5 separate regions of the Homo sapiens genome follow, and regions 1, 3, 4 and 5 are each reported to be linked to region 2. Evidence: microRNA targets listed by miRTarBase, many of them from high-throughput screens and not tested one by one. Region 2 holds a microRNA gene; each other region holds the end of a gene's coding sequence. Distances are from middle to middle.

Evidence for each region. The annotated mature microRNA hsa-miR-548av-5p reads AAAAGUACUUGCGGAUUU and lies in region 2 at 2,239-2,256, opposite strand. An mRNA with a match to its seed (bases 2 to 7 or 8) in the 3' UTR can be bound and repressed. Matches are read on the target gene's strand: a 7mer-m8 pairs with bases 2 to 8, a 7mer-A1 pairs with bases 2 to 7 and ends in A, and an 8mer does both.
Region 1: miRTarBase lists ARL13B as a target of hsa-miR-548av-5p. Seed matches in the 3' UTR shown: 7mer-A1 at 1,977-1,983 and 7mer-A1 at 2,750-2,756.
Region 3: the mRNA of ZBTB43 is a reported target of hsa-miR-548av-5p. The part of its 3' UTR that is shown has no 7-base or 8-base seed match.
Region 4: the mRNA of ALG9 is a reported target of hsa-miR-548av-5p. Seed matches in the 3' UTR shown: 7mer-A1 at 2,548-2,554.
Region 5: miRTarBase lists GALNT7 as a target of hsa-miR-548av-5p. Seed matches in the 3' UTR shown: 8mer at 2,385-2,392 and 7mer-m8 at 2,510-2,516.

Annotation. Positions count from the first base shown.
Region 1 is chr3:94,052,660-94,056,659 of GRCh38, forward strand. It overlaps ARL13B (ARF like GTPase 13B), which reads left to right. Exons shown (of 10, transcript NM_001174150.2): 10 at 528-3,019. The coding sequence ends at 604. Among named protein-coding and RNA genes, the nearest start is that of DHFR2, 8.3 kb to the right of the region's middle.
Region 2 is chr11:70,281,698-70,286,241 of GRCh38, reverse strand. It overlaps MIR548K (microRNA 548k), which reads right to left and starts at 2,287; the gene lies at 2,172-2,287. All of the region lies in intron 2 of PPFIA1 (PPFI scaffold protein A1), which reads right to left.
Region 3 is chr9:126,833,179-126,837,178 of GRCh38, forward strand. It overlaps ZBTB43 (zinc finger and BTB domain containing 43), which reads left to right. Exons shown (of 3, transcript NM_014007.4): 3 at 1-4,000. The coding sequence ends at 735. Among named protein-coding and RNA genes, the nearest start is that of ZBTB34, 25 kb to the right of the region's middle. RefSeq lists enhancers at 1-29, 30-529.
Region 4 is chr11:111,782,799-111,786,798 of GRCh38, forward strand. It overlaps ALG9 (ALG9 alpha-1,2-mannosyltransferase), which reads right to left. Exons shown (of 15, transcript NM_024740.2): 15 at 1-3,722. The coding sequence ends at 3,599. Among named protein-coding and RNA genes, the nearest start is that of PPP2R1B, 18 kb to the left of the region's middle.
Region 5 is chr4:173,321,104-173,325,103 of GRCh38, forward strand. It overlaps GALNT7 (polypeptide N-acetylgalactosaminyltransferase 7), which reads left to right. Exons shown (of 12, transcript NM_017423.3): 12 at 477-2,864. The coding sequence ends at 614. Among named protein-coding and RNA genes, the nearest start is that of HMGB2, 11 kb to the right of the region's middle.

The sequences.
Region 1 (4,000 bases), not on the chromosome of region 2:
GGCTTCATATATGTGGTAAGATGTCTTAACTTGCTATAACTTTTAAAGAAATGCTTTTATTTTTAAAAGGGAAAATGCTATTATATTTGGTGCTTAGAAAAACATTTTTTGTTGCAATGTAAAGTACAAACTTGATAGTGGCTATATTTGGGGTAAGAATCCAAATTTGGGGGCTATTGCAGTAGTCAAAGTAAGAAGTAAGGAATGGAAATTGGATTGGAGAGTATAACATAAGGAAGGAATATTTTAACCATTATAATAAGTAATATGTGATTAATGCATGTGTGGATTGAAGGCAAAAGGAATAGAGTATAATTTGGCTCAACAGGATGGAATGTTGGTGCCATCTCTTAAGATTTAAAATGCACGAGAGAGAAGGAAATCTTTTAGAGAGGCATGTCAAGATTCTGTAAGTTTATCTCTTTGGAAATGTCTAAAATGTCTAAAGTCTAAAAAATAATGAACTGTGTCAAAAATCTTGATGTACCATAACTGTTTTGTGCATTTGGTTTTCTTTCTTTTCTTAGATTTCTATAGGAAGCCACTGCCTCCCCTGGCTGTGCCACAGCGACCTAACAGTGATGCTCATGATGTGATCTCATAAACAAGACGTATGGAGGAGTTCTCTTAATATCAGCAAGGTGAACTGGGACATTCTTCTTTCTCAGAAGAAGAAACATCTTGTAAATTGATGACTGGGGCAAGATAACCATAATAATTTTAGTGAGAAGATTAATACTCAAGGACCTGACTTGATAATTACTTATTTGTGTTTTTCATGGTTAAAAAAATAAAAGAAGCACAATGACCAGTACATGAAATCAGCATTTGGACCAAATTAGCAAGATTTACTGTTGACTCTGGTTTATACATCCCCACTCATGAGCATACTTCTGAAGGAAAACTTTACAAAAAGAGCCAATGGACTCAGCACTTTCTTTACTATTTGTTCAATAGCCTATATTTCTAGATATTAAATATTTTTTGTAAGATATATGCACATAGAAGGGGGACTTCTAGGAATTTATAACCAAAATTTTAAAACTATTTTTATATTTTTTTAAATCTTTAAAAATTTTAATTACTGTGATATTGATTATACACCTTTTTTATAGATGATTTGTTTAAATTATATCTGGAAAATAGAGTTGATTTACTTTCAGACATGAACTATACAAACAGGATATATTTATATGGCTTGAGGTATGTTTTGTAATAGCGTTGTTCTTTAAGTGTACATCGTAATTTGACCTAATTTAAAAATAATATATTTTCGAAGTAGTAGATTCTCAGATCTTTATTCTAACAATTACATGATTTGAAAACAGTACTCAATGAGACTGGAAATACCTTTTGTACCTAAATGTTTTTTAAATTAATCAAAATACATTCTGTGAGATACTATTAAAAGTCTCAGTAAAGTCCTATTTTAAAGGTTAGACACTTTCAGAGATCAAGGTGCTCCCTATACTCCCTTGTTCCATCAGAAGCTGCAGTGACTCTTTTAGGTGATTCTAATTCTTTCATGCCTTGAAATTAAACTATGAAATTAAAGGCAGAAAAACTGGAAAACCTACTGCAGGTCCAGAGACTTCTGTTTTACAACTGGGAAACAGCTTGTGTACTAAAGTAATGAGAATAAAAATGTTGGCCCAAAATTACTTTTATAAATAAATAATTCCAAAATAATTTCTTAATTTAAAATGATAGCACTTCTCTTGCACTTAAGAATGGCATCCATAAGATTCTGTATTTGGCATTTAGACTAACTTCTAGATGTATATTTTTAATAATAGATTCATAATGTTACATTTAATTGAAAACAAACCTTTATATCCAATGAAAATAGTATAAACAGAATGATTTTTATACCACCTTGTTAAGATTGGTGCTTTTGGTAACTTGTACTGACACAACAGACATGTGCTAGTATCTGATAACATTAAGTACATTTTATGTCGTTTAATATAATTATTTACTTTAAAAATTGTACTTCAGAACATCAGATTTTATTCACATTTTTTAACTCACTGAACTTTAATAATCAGGTCACCTGTACTCTAGTCAGCACTGTATATATTCTTGGAGTTTGTACATGGGACTTAGCAACCACACTGAGTGAGGTAAAAGCATTTGATTTCAGATCTAAAATTCGTAACAACCTAAATTTGAGAGGTGGCTGAAATGTGATGAAAAGCAATACGAAAAGACAATGTAAACTTTGAAAAGGATTTTAGAGGGAAAATTGCATAGCTTTTTGTAACATTTACTTAATTTTAAAACTAAACTCATACTTTTGCTATCTTTTTAATATTTATCTCGTTTGGGAGTATACGTGTTTTTAAAATTTGTGTTTTCTATCTGTTTACTATAGTGTAGCTACTGGCTTCATTTAATAAAAATAAATGATTTTGAAATTAAATATAATATAGAATTCACATTTTATATAGCTCTCTCAAAAATTAATTTTTATTCCTTAAGCATTTTAAAAACATTTTAAAAAATGTTTTGTAAATCCAGGTGTATTTTAACAATTAAATGCCTATTTTGTTATATGTTATACTTTTATTCTTAATTCTGAATTTTGACATTTTCACACAATAAAAATAATTTATATCAATATTCTGTTTCTCTTTTCAATTGGTAGATTTAAATGATTTCCTTTGGGTAATAAAATAGGTAAAGATTTTAAAATATGATTATTGAAAAACAGTTTAAATCAGTAGATTAAAATAATGCATTTTTTTGATACTTTACACACAAAACTTTTTTCTCTCTGCAAGTTTTTATGTATGTGGGAAAGAATTTGTGATTTTAAATGCAGCTACAAATAGCATTTCACCATATGATGTTAGAGGATTTGATGTCTGTCTTGCGTTAAAGCTGTTGGTCAACAGATATGTTTTTATGTATTTAAAAGAGGCTCTTGTGTGCCTTTATGTGTAAAATGCATATTACGTAGTATACATGATATTGTATGTAACTGACTTCAAATATAAAACTATGCATAGAAACAACACTAGAAAGAAATGTAGTTTGGCTTACTTTTGTAGTGAGGGAGGCAAATTTATAATATTGTATAAATTATTTAAGTACCATGTTTTCTGCAAGTTTAAAATTAAGTGCTTTTATAAATGCCAGATTAAGACTACAATTCCCTTAATATGTAAAACCTGTGAACATCGTGGAGCAGTTCACCTGCAGAATACAACTAAAGAAATCAAATGCTTCTAGGTAGCAAAAGCTATTCACAAGCTAAATTGTTTATACATATAAAGCTGTAGCTTATAAACTTTATCATCCTTGGCTTTACTTAGTAAATTTTTTTGCTAAGTGGAATATGCTTTGCAACTGAGATTCTGCTAATAATGGTTTATTAATTTATCAGGAAGTATATTCCAACTGATCCAAAGAACAAATTCAAATATTTTAAAATTTTCAATTAAGCATGGCATAGGTTATCAAAATAGCAATAATCCTTTATCTTTACAGAAACAGAATAATAGATACCTGTTTTTTGAGGGGGGAAAAAAAGAAAGCCAGAAATTAACTTCCTTTAATGAAAGAGATCAGCTTATAATTAAATGGAAAATAGGAAAAAAGTTCATTTGCTTGTTGAGGGCTTAACTTGTAAGTTCCTTCTGTGTGCGGATGAGGAAATCATTTACAACCTAGGTAAGTGGATCAGTGGTTTCCAAGTTTTTATTATAATATCTTCTATCAGAAAACATTTTTAATATACATTGATGTTTATGTTATTGTATTAGTTTGCTAGGGTGGCCATAACAAAGTATCACAGACAAGTTGCTTAAACAACAGAAATTTATTTTCTCAGTTCTGGGGACTGGTAGTCTGAGAGCAAGTTGGTGGGTTTGCTTTCTCCTGAGGCCCCTCCTTGCCTGATAGATAGACACTGTCTTGTGTCCCCACGTGGCCTTTTTTCTCCACCCACCCCCACTGTCTCTGTGTGTTCGATTTTCCTCTTTTTATGACTTCTTAT
Region 2 (4,544 bases):
ACTACGTAGAAAACTACCGTTCACAGGATGGGGTACGGATGCGGGGGAAAGATGGTTTGAGCCAATATTGAATTTAAGGAGCCCAAAGCCTGCCCAAATGAAAGTACACAGCATGGCAGTCAGGTAAGGCACCTGCGAGGCACAGTGGCCAAGAGTGGAGGAGTACAGTGGGCAGCTGAAACTCCCAAGGAAAACCACCTCCCTAGTTCTGCCTACACAAACATCAACGAAAAGTGGAAAGTGCTCCCACATTACATCATCCATGCATTTAACTTGCTCAAACCGAACTATGTAAGTTTGGTTTTTTCCATTTCTCTTCATACAACGAAAAAAATGTGGGCTAAATAACCCTTTTTACCTATGGAATATTCAGCACCTAGAACGGTGCATGCCACATACAGACACTCAAAATACCTGAATACATTCATGTATACACTATATACATAAACATTATGTATACTGCATGAAAACAGTATGCATTTATGTATATGATAATTAAAAAGTACACATTGTTCTGTGCCTTATGTGATGGGTGATGTTAAGAGGTTTTTTTTTTTTTTTTGAGACAGAGTCTCACTCTGTCCCCCAGGCTGGAGTGCAGTGGTGCGATCACAGCTCATTGCAACCTCCACCTCCCAGGTTCAAGCGATTCTCCTGCCTCAGACTCCCGAGTAGCTGGGATTACAGCTGCGCACCACCACGCCCAGCTAATTTTTGTATTTTTAGTAGAGACAGGGTTTCACCATGTTGGCCAGGCTGGTCTCGAACTCCTGACCTCGTGATCTGCCCATCTCGGCCTCCCATTACAGGCATGAGCCACCGCACCCGGCAAGAGTTTTTAATTTTTGCTCACAGCACTAACTTTATAGCCCAAACCCATGCACTTGAAGTGGCTCTACTCTAACCAGTGGTTTCCACCCTAGGTCCATTCTTCCCTCCATCCCCAGCTCATTATCCACATAGCATGATCTTTTAAAAACTTGGGAGGCCAAGGAGGGAGGATCACCTGAGGTCAGGAGTTCAAGACCAGCCTGGGCAACGTGGTGAAACTCCCGTCTCTACTAAAGATTAGCCGGGCACGGTGGCGGGCGCCTGTAATCCCAGCTACTTGGGAGGCTGAGGCAGGAGAATCGCTTGAACCTGTGAGGCAGAGGTTGCAGTGAGCCGAGATCATGCCAGTGCACTACAGCTTGGGCAACAGTGTAAGACTCCATCTTAAATAAAGAAATACATAAATAAATAAAAATAAATAAATAACAACGCAGCTAAATCACATCATTCCCTCCCCTGAGGCCACGATGCACGCAAAGTACTGAAGCCCTAAGGTACTTAAAACAAAAACAAGCAAGTCTTCACCTCTGTCTGATCCCATCCCAACCTACCTAGCCAACCTTACCATGTTCACTCTTCCCTTCCCTCCAGGCCAAGTAACCATGGCCACAGACCCCAGCTTTGACTCAGCTAAATGCTAAGCTCTCCCTTGCTCTGGCCTTTGCTCAAGTAGCCCCACCGCCAAGAAAGCTCTCATACCTGGTTCCTCTTAGCCTTCATCCCTCAGCTCTAAGCCAATCCCCTCGAAAGCCTCACCTTTCTGGACCACAGTGTGCCTGGCAGCCCACCCCACTCAGTCGAGATCATGGATTTCTTCTGAACCACTTCATTCTATCTGGATGTGTCTCGCAACCTGCACCTGCTTTGAGCATGGGTATATTGTGAAAGTCTTCTGCAGGCAGAGACCCTGTCTCTACCACTGACTGCAGGAGCCTAGAACGGTAATATTCACACAGGGCTCAACAAAATAGGAGGAAGGACTCTGTCTCCTTGCTGACAATTAAAGGTGTAGGAACAGGAAGACAAGATGGCAAATTCAGTGTGTGCAAAAGAGAGATGTAAATGGCCAAATATTATTCTGAAAGGATATATTCAACTATTTCATACACCAAAGACGATGAAAACAAGTATGGTATTTTAAGAGGTGTTTTGCCAACTACTACTAAGAAACAGTCAGTAAAGCAGATGAGGGGGCACCATCTGAAGGGGCAGTCATTAGTATTTATTCTCAGGGAAGAGTCATTTAGCTAGTTTTACCTTATTCCAATTCTTCCTAATTTGTTCACTAAAGTTAAGCTTAGCAAGTACCTTGTTTGCAGCACTCAACAAATTACAGTTGTAGCCAATTTTGCATCATATTAGGTTGAAGCAAAAATAATTGCGGTTTTTGCCATTAAAAGTAAAGCAAAATCCGCAAGTACTTTTGCACCAACCTAACAGCAATACTTGAGAAAAGCTTCTGATTCTTTATACCTAAACCTGGACACTTCCAACATTTGGGGCCAGATAATTCTTTGTTGAGGGGGCTCCACTGCAGAATGTTTAGGAGCATCCCTGCCCTAGCTGTGACAACCACAAATACCTCTCAACACCACCAAACACCAGCGTCTCCTCTTTACTCTCCCCCACCCCCGTCCCCCTTCTCCCCGCAAGCTTGACCCTGGTATCTGCCACTCGGCTGTCATCCTCTAGTCCTACACAATTCCGCCAGGTTGTTCTTTTCTACTGCCCTCTGCCCTCGGATTCTAGCATCCTAGTTTGGGCTGTAACACTTCATGCCCACATTGCAGGAACTGCCTCCTAAATGGGCTGTCTTGCACCCTCTCGCCTCCTCAATCCATCCAGCACACCTTCCACTGCAACCAGCTGAAGCTCACCCATCACTTTGACAGGGAACACCCCTGACACAGGTAGACTTCTTTTTCACTAAGTTTGGATTTGATTTGAAGACCTCATTCCTTAGAATCTTCTGAGTTTTGTACCCCCTGCTTCAGGGATTGGCAGATTGGGAGAGAGACTGGCAAAATTTGGGACCTCACCTGCAATGAAAGGTGAACAGTCTCTCTTCTAGGTTTCACACAAAAGAGTTCTTCAAGCAAGAGGTCTTCTAAAAATCTCATTTGTTGCTTTCAAAAAGACTGTAAAAATCACTGCACTCCAGTTTAAAATAAAATCTCCATTTGAAAATGCAACTGAAACTTTAAAATGAAATTAGAGAGAAGCCCAAAGGCAATATTTGCTTTAAAAAAAAAAAAAAGCACTCGGTCAGTCGGTCAGGCATGATGGCTCATGCCTGTAATCCCAGCACTGTGGGAGGCTGAGGCGGGCAGATCACCTGAGGTCAGAAGTTCAAGACTAGCCTGACCAACATGGTGAAACCCCGTCTCTACTAAAAATACAAAAATCAGCCGGGCATGGTGATGCACGCCTATGGTCCCAGCTACTCAGGAGGCTGAGGCAAGAGAATCGCTTGAACCTGGGACATGGAGGTTGCAGTGAGCTGAGATCGCACCATTGCACTCCAGCCTGGGCGACAAGAGCAAAATTCCTTCTTAAAAAAAAAAAAAAAAAAAAAAAGCCAGGCACGGTGGCTCACGCCTGTAATCCCAGCACTTTGGGAGGCCAAGGCATGCAGTGGATCATGAGGTCAGGAGATCGCGACCATTCTGGCTAACATGGTGAAACCCTGTCTCTACTAAAAATACAAAACAAAAACTAGCTGGATGTAGTGGCGGGCACCTGTAGTCCCAGCTACTGGGGAGGCTGAGGCAGAAGAATGGTGTGAACCCAGGGGGTGGAGCTTGCAGTGAGCCGAGATCACGCCACTGCACTCCAGCCTGGGTGACAGAGCAAGACTCCATCTCAAAAAAAAAAAAAAAAAAAAAAAAAAAATCAGCACTCAAAAAGGAAACATACATGGGATCAAGTCATAGAATAAACATTAGGTAGCTGGGCACACTGGTTCATGCCTGTAGTGGTAGCTACTCAGGAAGCCAAGGCAGAAGGATGGCTTGAGCCCTGGAGTTGGAGATCAGCCTAGGCAACACAGCAAGACCCCATCTCCAAAGTAAGACTAAACACCACGCACACAACCTCTCCTACCTCCCTAGCCTCCTTCTTTGCCACTGCCAGATATGTCATCACAAACCCTCCCTCGGTCTGACACAGGGCATGGGGAAGAGTAGAGACTACAGCAGGGTGGAACAGCCCACACAGTGGCCAAGACGGGAATTGGAGGCCAAGGGCTGTGTCTCCCGCTGGGCAGGCCACTTGCTCTACTGTCTTTAAGTGGTTAAGTGACTGGGCAGGGGCAAATGGGGGATTCTGATTAGAAACTGGACAATGTCATGAGAAGCAGACTGGAAAAAAAAAAAAGAAACTGGACAAGGTAGCCTAAGCGAGGTGAGTGGGTTCTGTATGCTCCCTATCAAGTAATGATAACCAATGTCTCCAGACTCCGCATATGCTGCAGACAGAGAGAGCACGCCCGCTTCAGCTCCAGTTTCAGTGATACGCGGGGTGGCCTGTAGCCCGGCAACCCACCAAAAACTAGAAAAGGTGAGTATGACTTGAAAGTCTGCAGGCATCAAAGAGATGCCAAGGCAGCCACAAATGAAGGGACCAACATTCCAAACCAAAGAGAGGCCCACTGAGGTGAGTCCACTATTCAGAGCCCCCACTCTTTCTGTCAGTGCATTTGACAATTTGGAAGG
Region 3 (4,000 bases), not on the chromosome of region 2:
GAGTTCCACTACACCCGGCCCATGTACAGCAAGCCCAGCATCATGGCTCACAAACGCTGGATCCACGTGAAGCCCGAGCGCTTAGAACAGGCTTGCGAGGGCATGGATGTGCACGCGACCTACGACGAGCACCAGGTCACAGAGTCCATCAACACCGTGCAGACAGAGCACACGGTGCAGCCTTCGGGAGTGGAGGAGGACTTCCACATCGGGGAGAAGAAAGTGGAAGCTGAGTTTGATGAACAGGCTGATGAAAGCAATTATGATGAGCAGGTGGATTTCTATGGCTCTTCCATGGAAGAGTTTTCCGGAGAGAGGTCAGATGGGAATCTAATTGGGCACAGACAGGAGGCTGCCCTCGCAGCAGGTTACAGTGAGAATATTGAAATGGTAACAGGGATTAAAGAAGAAGCTTCCCACTTAGGATTCTCAGCCACTGACAAGCTGTATCCTTGTCAGTGTGGGAAAAGTTTCACTCACAAGAGTCAGAGAGATCGGCACATGAGCATGCACCTCGGTCTTCGGCCTTACGGCTGTGGGGTCTGCGGTAAGAAATTCAAAATGAAGCACCATCTCGTGGGCCACATGAAAATTCACACAGGCATAAAGCCGTATGAGTGTAATATCTGTGCAAAGAGGTTTATGTGGAGGGACAGTTTCCACCGGCATGTGACTTCTTGTACTAAGTCCTACGAAGCTGCAAAGGCTGAGCAGAATACAACTGAGGCTAACTAAAAATAGGATCTGGCCCTTGAGTGGCATGCACAAAAATAAACTATGGTAATTAATGCAAATCTGGGCACAGATGATGCGTGCTACTTGCTATTATGAGAGAAGCTTAAAAAAAAAAAGGAAGATATTTCTGAAAGACCAGCTCTAAGTAGGCCAATTAAAAAAATCTAATTCCTCAAATTTGTGTGTTCCAGTCCTGGCCTGGAATGGGTAATGGGGTGAGTTAACCCACCGCCCAGCTGGCAAGGGAAACCTTCTGACTGGTTGTGATCGAAACAGGTGGACAGAGACACCTGCACTTGGAACTGGACTCCACCCACCAGTTCCATTTTGGGTGGCAGCAGCTTTGGATCACTCATTATTACAAGGTCATGCTGAAATTTTATTTTGCTCTTGCTATAGATACTTAGGTAATGTGGATTTGTTTTGGTAGCTATTTCACTGAAGGAAGTGCTACTTATATAAAAGCTAGAAATAATGTGATTCCTAGGATGAGAAATTGGTTAACAGAGCTCTGTTGTCTGGTTTTAGTCTTTCTAAAGGATATTTTAACTAAAACTATGGAGATGCTAAGAGAGTGACTTTCTAAATATGAAACAGATAATTTACGGTACAAGGCTGACATAGTGCCCTTGTCAGTTTCTGTAAGATGCCACTACTGTCACAAGGTGTTTCAGACTCTTGATAAGGCAGTGTTTTGTATTTTAGTTCTAACATTGAGTTTGGACAATTTTATCTAATTGTAATTCTCTAGGGTGCCAGAGATAGGTATTTCTCATTGGTTTGCTTTCCCAAATCCTGTTTGGTTAATTGTAGCCTCCATACAGTGGGGTCTTCTCTGTGGCTGGTAGACACCAAGCTGCTGTGACTGACCACGGTACCACGGGCTGCCACAGCCCCTGCTCTGTCTTAGATTATGGTGCTTTACAAAGAGAGTGGTCCATGACCACACTTAGTGAGAAGGAGCCACAAGTTGTGGCTGAGAGTTCCCTGTGAACTTGAGTAGTTCATAGAGTGCTAAGGTGACACTCCACCAACCAGAGTGAGAGGGCAGATAGGCAGGATTCTATGAGTGGTTATACTTAAGGGGGACAAAACTGCCCAAGAAGAATCTTGAGAATACACTCTTTCAAGGTGGGGGAGATACTCTTTAGAGGGTACACTGAGCTAATACTACCAGTTCTTTATGAGCACTGGAATGTGTTTGTAAAAGGAGTCCTAAGTTTAGCAAGGTAGTCTACAGAACCATGCTCCCACATTATAGATAAAGCTGCTTAAACTTAAAAGTCCACAAAGCTACGCCGACCAGAAAAAAAAAATTAAAAAAACAAACAAGAAAAGCAACTATTCTGAGACCTTTTCTGCCCATCAGTTAGATGATTTAGGTTAAAAAGAAAGGTAATATTGCACATGCTTTTAAGCTGTGTAACATACCTGAGGTTATCACCAGGGTAGGACAGGGTGCTACTACCATGTCATCTTTTCCACAATCGTACTGGGTTATTTACTTCTAAATAGAAACTTTTTTTTCTTAAAATAAAAATAATTTTTCTTGGATTTGGGGTGAAATTTTATTTGAAAAGTTTGGCTTTGCTGTAATGTAATAGACATTGCTGGCAATGGCCTCTGATTCTCAAGCTCCTAACACCAGGGTGTTTACTTGTTGAACATTGTCTGGAAAGAGGAAAGAAAATACTTATTTACCAGTTAACTCTTGTAAGCAAGATTACAAACAGGGATTTATTCACAACACTGTATCATTCTCGATATATAAAAAGCACTTTGTATTTAAAACTTTATTATAAATATATATATATATTGTTTTTTTTTAAACCTAGAAACTAGATATTACCTCTTGGTTGTTTGCCACATTAATAGCTTCTCTTAGTATTGAAACGTTACTGGTTAGCAGTCTTTTCTCTGTGTACCTGACACACGTATACTGAGGGGATTGTACAATCAAGCCTATTGTCTCCTTTTCTTTCACTCATGGTAGAGGCCAGTGGGTTTTAGGTATGATCCTAGCCATTATATTTGAGGAGAAATTGTTCTATTACTCCTACTAATTTCAGTACTAAGGTGGTGATGCCATTTTGTTCTGCCAAAAACTGATCACCCTCTCCCATGGTATTAGCAGAGCATTTTCTGCCTGTTTGGAAGGTTTGATGTCCTGTTTCTCATTGAAGACTATTTACATGATCATTAGGACATTGCAGGAGAAGTCTGAGAGGTAAAAATACAGATATTCTGGGAGAGTCGTGGTCCTTCAGTTCTGCTGAAATCAGCATAGTGCCCTTGTCATGAGGAAGAGTTTCTGTTCAGCCAAGAGTGGTGGCACGCTTGGGTGGTAGTTTTGGAAGCAGTCAGTTGTGCTAGGACTTATTTAATATGTTGTGAAGAGAAGAGTGTCTTCTTGAAAGCCTTATGTGTCCATCAGCTACTAAATGTAGAACTTAAATAAGTTGCTCACATCTGTTCTTTTAGTGTTTTGTGGTATTTGAGGTTTTGGCAAAAATTGGGATTTTTTTATCAGGCAGCCAGAGCCTGGGAGGTGGTAGGGTGTCTGAAATGCTGGCCATGTTCAGAGAGGCAGGAGAAGGGGGTTGCTTTCATTTGAATATTAAAAGTGAATTTTTGTAAACTCTGGTTTTTACCTTTTTTTCATCCCCACGTTGAGTTGGAGGAATAGTCTCTTCTCTTCACCTCAATATAGCTTTAGAAAATCTTTATCCTTCCTAATAAGTTTGGATGGTTGTGGGTAACATTGTTCAAACAATCTTTCAGGGATCACGTCAATGGCCTACAACCAAGCTATTTGTCCCCTACTTTGAGTCTTAACTGTGGTTTTTCTTCAATCCCCATGGGAAAGGGCTTCAAGGCACCACCAGTGGTATTTAATATTCATACTTGGGGCCAGGCATGGTGGCTCACGCCTGTAATCCCAGCACTTTGGGAGGCCGAGATGGGTGGATCACCTGAGGTCAGGAGTTTGTGACCAGCCTGACCAACATAGTGAAACCCCATCTCTACTAAAAATACAAAAATTAGCCAGGCGTGGTGGCGCACACCTGTAATCCCAGCTACTCGGGAGGCGGAGGCAGGAGAATCACTTGAACCTGGGAGGCGGAGGTTGCAGTGAGCCGCGATTGCACCACCACACTCCAGCCTGCGCGACAGATCGAGACTCTGTCTCAAAAAAAAAAAAAAAATTCATACTTATGCCATGCTTTTACCTTTAGATACACACGTTACAGTAATCCACGTGGTG
Region 4 (4,000 bases), 42 Mb from region 2:
CTTTCCTAGAACTCCAAAGTTGGAAAAATGACCCAGATAAATGATTGGGATAAAGACCCATCATGATTTAAAACAAAGGGTCTATTTCCAAACTTGAATTCGGTAATAAAGAGTATGGGCTGCAATTTTCTGTGATTATCTCAAAAAATTAAAATAACCTGTCTTCTTTCTTATCAGATGACACCTACCAGGTAGGAGGTAAATTTTGGTAGCAGATGCCTACCGTGCAGACTGGTTCAGTAATGGTACTCAGCATCACAAGATTTGGGGATTCAGATAAGGCTGCTTTAGAGCTAGAAATCAGAGAACCATGCATTTGCCAAGTATACCTACTCCCTCACTCACCCCATGATCAAAGGCTATTAAAAATTATCTGGGCCGGGTGCGGTGGCTCATGCCTGTAATCCTAGCACTTTAGGAGGCCGAGGCGGGATGATTACAAGGTCAGGAGTTTAAGACCAGCCTGGCCAACATGGTAAAACCCCACCTCTACTAAAAATACAAAAATTAGCTGAGTGCGGTGGTGGTGTGTGCCTGTAATCCCAGCTACTCAGGAGGCTGAAGCAGGAGAATTGCTTGAACCCGGGAGACAGAGGTTGCAGTGAGCTGAGGTCGTGCCATTGTGTTCCAACCTGGGCGACAGAGCAAGACTCTGTCTCGGGGAAAAAAAATAATAATCTGTAGTCCCACATCCCTCTATACTCCACAATCTATGGAGAAATAAGTATCTTGCATGCTTCCTCCTTTTGGCAAGCAGAACAGTCAGTGCAGGCTGAACACTGCTTTTTTGAGGGAGAACTGCTACTCTGAGCAGGTGTGTTGAAACTGTTTTTCCCAGGCAAAGCTATCCTTCCTATACTAAAAAGTGATGGAGATTTTTTAAAATGTGTTTATAAAATATCACATGAAAACACCTTCACAACAAAAAACATTCATTTCTATATTCCTTACCTATAACATTTGGCACAGCGTTCTGCCATGTATTGTGCTCTCACTAAAGACATACATAGAACAGAGAGATCCAAAATCAGGTTTTAAAAGTGATAGGAACTGATATTTCCAAGGAATCCCTGCATCAGTCCTGGCCTTTCTTTGCGCTATATTATAATTAAGGTTTTGTTTTTTTAAAAAAAAAAAAAAACAAGATGACAAAACAGATAAAACAGCATTATACTACTTTGATTAGAAAAAAGCCATTCATCACAGATGGACCTCCATTCCTGGATTCTTATTTACCTCTGGGAAACATAGAGGGCCTTAGCTACTGTGAAGAACAGCACATTATTACTGCAAGTAAGGCAAATGTTTCACTTAAAATTCTCTGTCCTGTAGTCAGATCATATGTGCTAGTTTTACACTGGAAAATAGTAATCAAGAATTGAGAATTAAATGCCAGAGATCTTTCAAGCAAGGGGGAGCCCAGTCTATCCTCACACACTCCCCAGTTATTGTTCTGTACTGTCTAGACCTATTACCTCTCCAGCGCTTCAACTCCGTCTCTGATATTCCTGCAGAGGAGATCTCAAAGAGGAGCTTTTTAATATTGTAACTAGCCATTTCTTCTGTTATCACTTCTTTTCTTCTCTCTTGGCACCAGTTCCTATTAGAATGCCCTTCTCTTTGAAAATGAAAGATGGGGCTGGGTGCGGTGGCTCACGCCTGTAATACCAGCACTTTGGGAGGCTGAGGCGGGTGGATGACCTGAGGTCAGGAGTCCAAGACCAGCCTGGCCAACATGGTGAAACTCCAACTCTACTAAAAATACATAAATTAGCTGGGCATGATGGCGCATGCCTGTAATCCCAGCTACTCGGGTGGCTGAGGCATGAGAATTGCTTCAACCTGGGAGGCAGAGGTTGCAGCGAGCCGAGATCGCGCCACTGCACTCCAGCATGGGCGACAGAATGAGACTCTGTCTCAAAAAAAAAAAGAAAAATGAAAGATGGAACTTCTGAAAAATAGATTCATCCTATTTGCAGATATTCAGATCAGTTACCCTTAGGGAAATAAGGCACCTATAATGTGACCCCAGATTGACTACAGGAATAGTACTGATATTTGGATCCTGTGTGGCTGCAAAAGAACATGACTTCCAAACAGAAGCACTACTTTCCTGCCACAGGTCAGGCTGCATCACACAGCACTGCTGTGCTGGTCTAACACACAGGCAGACTGGAGGCTCCAAAGAACTCAAATACAGACACAATTCTTCCTTAAAATAGAAAGTTACAATATCAGTTAGGTCTCTGGTTAACCTCATCAGTCCTTTCAAGTAATGTTTTCATGGTTGAGTGAGGAATATGGAGGAGCAATAGATGAGAGTAAGGAAACCTGGGTTCCAGTCCCAGCTCTATTACTTACTGGCTGTGTGACCTTAGGCAACTAACTATCTTTACCTCCCCTCACTCCCCACCCGCAGCCTGTTTCCTTATCTGTAAAATGGGGATAAAAATCACCTGCCTTGTCTACCACATGTTGTGACTGTGAGGATCAAACGAGATGCTGTGAAAGTGCCTTGTAAACTGAAGTACTGACTGTAAAGGCTTTTAAAGTAATAGTATACACTTATCACATTTTAATTAGGTCCTTATCATTGCCTATTTGACTAGAAGTGCCCCATGCAGGATGTGCCTCACAACAGACAGAACTAAAAAATAGGTGCTATAAATATACACTGATCCTTTTCACTGGGGGTGGTTAAAAAAAAAGGAAAATTCTTAATTTCCTCAGCAATGGCCTCAGATTACATTACTTAAAAATGTGATGTCATCCAAATGTATCAATTGATAGAATTTTCTCCAAATATGTCCTATACAGTTGTAGTTTTGTCTGTTGATATCTTCACATGGAGGAGTCTAGAATTCAAAAAATAGCATGCTAAAACTGAACAAAAAAGCAATACAACCTTATAGTTACAGTTGGTTGTAAAGGAAATGAAAATTAGAGGCATCATTATAATAAAATTAGGTCACAGTTCCTCAAATGGTCACCTTTTTCCTGAGATAGCTCCAGGACAGGGTCCTAGTCCTGTGAAGTGCTTTAAAGAAGCTTAGTCTTGCTGGAGGTGAAAAGGACATGTGGGTTGGCAACTAGGCTGTGTTCATTTTCAGCATGAGGATTTCAATAAGAAGGTCTGCTAGGAGCTGCCAAACAGCTTTGGTGGAGAAGCCCATATGGCCTAAGAGAGGCTTGCTAGTTCTCAGATGCCAGGCCAGAGTGTGGAGAACAGCTTATCACAGCCATCCAGTACCAGGATTTTCAATTCTTCCTGTAAGTTGGTTCTGCTCTTCTCCGGTCTAGTAAATAATTGAACAGAGGAAAAACAATGAGATGTGGAGCAATATATCTATCTGTGCTTTAGGGCCTTTCTCTGCCTAGCTGCAAAAAGTTTACATGCAGAACAGAGACACACACAGGGAGCAAATGTGACTTTGATTAGACTTTGAAATAGACTTTGACTAGCCCAGAGCACCCAGATTCCAGTATTCATGTCAGAAGACCTTTATTACAAATGTTACAGGCGATGACTTGCAGGGAGTCAGGTCACTGGAATCAATAGTTAACAAGATGGTTGTCCTTTGGGGCCACAGGTGTGTTGCTAACCTCCACTTTTCTTCCTGATTTGCTTTGCTTTCCGGGGTTTGAGGATGGTGTAGTTTACGTACACTGTATACTGATCTGACAGGAAGGGGACATAGAATGCCCGCAGCAGCTTTGAAGATCTGAAAAACAAGGGATAAAAAAAAGAATTTTATCACTTGGGAGAATTTACTAATGGTACTAAATGTGATTAAAATAAATAAACTAATCTGTAGTAAGGATTATATTTTATTCAAGTGGCACAGAAAAGCCTATTATTTCGGTACTAGATCACGATAAAAGACTTAATCAAGGCCGAGTACCTTGTCACCTAAACGAAAATTTATTATTGTCCCTAATAAGCCACAGTATATCCTTCAGAATAGCTCTAGGTCTTCATTTTGCATTAGAATGTGCCATA
Region 5 (4,000 bases), not on the chromosome of region 2:
TATTGAAGAAACCTACAGCATATGGTGAGGGCCAAACCAGGGCATCTGCAGTGGCGATGGGAAGGAATATAAACCAGAGACATTGCACATATCCATCCTTAGTGACTGGTATGTGAGTGAATGAGGAAAAGTGCAGTATTTCCTAAGGACTAGAGAGCTGGGAATGTCATTAGCCAGGATAGGAACAAGAGACATAGATTTGGAGGGGCAGATAATGAATTTAGGTTTGTATACATTGAGTGTGAGATACCAGCAGTATATTGTGACTTAACAATGAAAGATCTTAGGACTTAGAAAACTGACAATCAAGAGAAATCCAGAAAACTGACAATCAAGAGAAATCCAAAGTCTGAGGTGTGGTTGAGAAGCTTTTCCATTTCCTTAAACTGTCTCCTCATGAAAGTCAAGTGATGATTTCTGATGTCAGTGATATCAAGGGTCCAAATTTGAAACTTTTTTCTTACTGTGTTTTCCAGAACCTGCACAGATTTACTCATATTCCTTCAGGAAAGTGTTTAGATCGCTCAGAGGTCCTGCATCAAGTATTCATCTCCAATTGTGACTCCAGTAAAACGACTCAAAAATGGGAAATGAATAACATCCATAGTGTTTAGAGAGAAAAAAATAAACCAATAACCTACCTACTGACAAGTAAATTTATACAGGACTGAAAACCGCCTGAAACCTGCTGCAACTATTGTTATTAACTCTGTATAGCTCCAAACCTGGAACCTCCTGATCAGTTTGAAGGACATTGATAAACTGTGATTTTACAATAACATTATCATCTGCAGTTACTGTTTACAAGACTGCTTTTACCTTAAACTTTGTAGATGTTTACATCTTTTTGTTGTGTTTTAAGATGATGTTGGTAATTTGTGCCTTTAGCTCTGTTTTATTAGACAGAGTTAAAGCATGTTGTCTTCTTTGGGATTACACTCAGGGGTCTGAAAGGCAGTTTGATTTTTATTTTTAACACACTTGAAAAAAGGTTGGAGTAGCCAGACTTTCATATATAACTTGGTGATTATCAACCTGTTGTGTCTTTATTTAATTTTACATCTTTTTGAAGCACTGCCACAGGTTATTAGCCAAGGTGGCCTTCCTTCACAGTCATGCTGCTTTTTTGAAAGGTGAATTTCAACACATTTAGTGCCTCTTTCATTTCTCAGTATATATTTCAAGAGCTTGTGATGAAATCTATAGGATGGTAATGATGGACTTGTCACCTGTATGGGGAATACTTTTACTACTCAGAAATGAATTTATGTGCTGCCATTTGCTATAAAGTTGAACTTTGTATGGCTTGAAAAAGAAATGACAATATGGAACATCCCAAGGCTGTCCCATAGGGTTGGAAGTTGTGTAGCATTCACTCCCTTACCTACTGGCATTCCCAGTGCCCTCTGTCCATACCTACTTCTAGGATTGCAAAGGAGTCTTCCAACTAGAGAAAAATTGTCCACTGACATTTGGGATTTACTTTTCTCCAATACCTGCCAATACAGAAAACTATTATCAGTTGTTATTGTTATCCCTTGAAAGCGAGGGTGACAAAAACAACAAAACACCGTTATAAACACATCAAAGGTTCATTCTGACTGAGGTAAGACTTTCCAAGCCCTTGTTAGATTAGGCCTTATAAAACTTGTGTGCATTATAACCTAAGCTGTGCAACCTGTGAAGCCAAGAGTGAACTGATGTTTCATTTATATTTTCATCCAAATGACATTATCTGCACGTTTTTAAAATTTAAAAACAAAGGACTATTTAAAAATACAGTTTATTAACAAACGTGAACTACTTTCTGTTACATTAGGTGTTCCCTAGTGTTTCTTAATTTCTTTTTAGAAAGTGTATTTTTATTAGTATTTTTCCGGTGAACAGAAGATTTGTTTGGATTTAAACATTTACTAAGACAGTACCTATTAGGAAAACCAAATATTGCAAATGGTCAATTCGATTTTAATTTCTCAAAAGATACTCTGTTATCCAGAAGATTAAAATGCCTACATTGAGTGCTTAAAAAAAAAAAAACAACTGTGATGATGTGAGCAGAATGGCAAGTAAGTTAAGCATTTTTGATCCTGTAATCATGGTATCATTACAATGAAAGGAATTCACAAACTACTGCCAGAGGAAGTTTGTTTTTTAATTTAAGAGGGAAATATAACCTATAAATTTGTTTCTTCCAAGCTTAGCTCTTAAATTTGGAGACTCAAAGTTAAACATCCTCAACAGAGTTTTATTTATAATTTTGAATTGTCAATTTGTATTTTGCTACTGATCTGTGATCAACCATTTTAACTTTCATCTCTAGGGATGTTTAACATTTATAATTGCAAAATAAACCAACTATAAAAAAAGAAACTAAGAGAGAATTGGTACTTTAATTACTTGTGTGTTTGCAAATAGGCTCCATTTTCCATGTTGAGTAGATTATAACCTTATTAACTATGCATAGGCCTAAGAAAGGTGGCAATGAACTGTGCATGTAAATTTTAAATGGGTACTTTGTGCAATTCGTTAAAAGAAGATACTCTATGAATATGATTCTATATATTGAAATCAGAAAACCTACCAAACAAAAACATCAGAAGCTGCTGCCATAATGACTATTTTCTACTGTAGGCTGCTTTGGAAATAATTCCCATATCCTTGCTTTGTAAGTTGGTAATATCACTATGCATTTCTACACATTTTATAAATTTGATTTATGCAGATTTTGATACACTGTATGTTTCTGTAGAAATTGTATAAATATTCAAAATTTTATTAGGATAAATTTGAGAAACTTACGTATATCTTAATTCTGGGTTGCTTGTTTTTTAGGTGACAAAAATAAAATATTGTATTTTAATTCATGGGTTTTTTTGGTGCTTGTAATCATTTCAAATCTAAACACTGCACATTTGAAAGAATTACTTGATTTTACTATTTACAAGACACACAATACCTAAAATATTATAGACCATAGTTATTAGTTGAGTATGTGCTTGACTGTTGCTTAGCATTCTGTTACACATGCTTAGAATACTCAGAGCTTATGTATCTGTTGGAAGGAAACAAAGGTTTATTTTTACCTGTTTGCCTATGTATACCAATTTTTTAAGTTTATACTTTTTTTAATTATAAAAAATTACCCCAGCAACATATATCCTTCTTGGCTGTATATAGAATTGCCTTCTTGGCTGTACTATAGAATTGCCTATTAGAAGCAAACATGCCTTCAAATCAAATTTGTTTACAACCTGACAGATCAGGTTAAGTGGAGAAAAATGAAGAGAAGGGAAGCCTACCACAATGAAATTAGAAATAGTCCATAGCACCTTGTACAAAACACATCTCAAGAGAAGATACGGTTGCTAACAGATTCAAGTAAGTGGCTGTATTGATTTGGGAAACTTTCTCTCAACTGACCTGTCTATTGTCATATCTCCCAATTCTTAGCTGCTGTAGAAGTAGGCTAAGAAATTTGAAAAAGTGACAGCACCAGACTAGAATAAATGGGAGTTTCTTTATTTCTTAAGTTTCTCATAGGGATCTTGGAATATATTTCATTTCTGGACATAATTGGGAAAAAAATCCATATATAATTCAATGGAAAACATGACAAGTACCTCACCAGAAAGCCAGATACCTAATAGGCCAATAGTTTAGGTACGTGAAAATTATTCCATGTGAAAGCACTTTAAGAAGTGTTGAGCATTATGAAACTGTGATGTGATAAGTGCATCTTGAAGAATATCTAAGATATTGTATCCTTCAAATTACCTTTAAATGAAATTTCTCTTGGGCTTTTGGTTTGAGCAAATAAACCACAGCTGTATTAAGAATTAACTAACCGAAACAAAACTAAATATTTGAATAGAAAATAGGGATGAATAGACTTCCACTTCCGGCTATAATTTTAAGTGGACTTATCTTGCTACCCCAAACAACAGTTAATGCTGGACAAAATATATGAAGCAACTGTTTTCAGGAATTGGATACTAGTCAA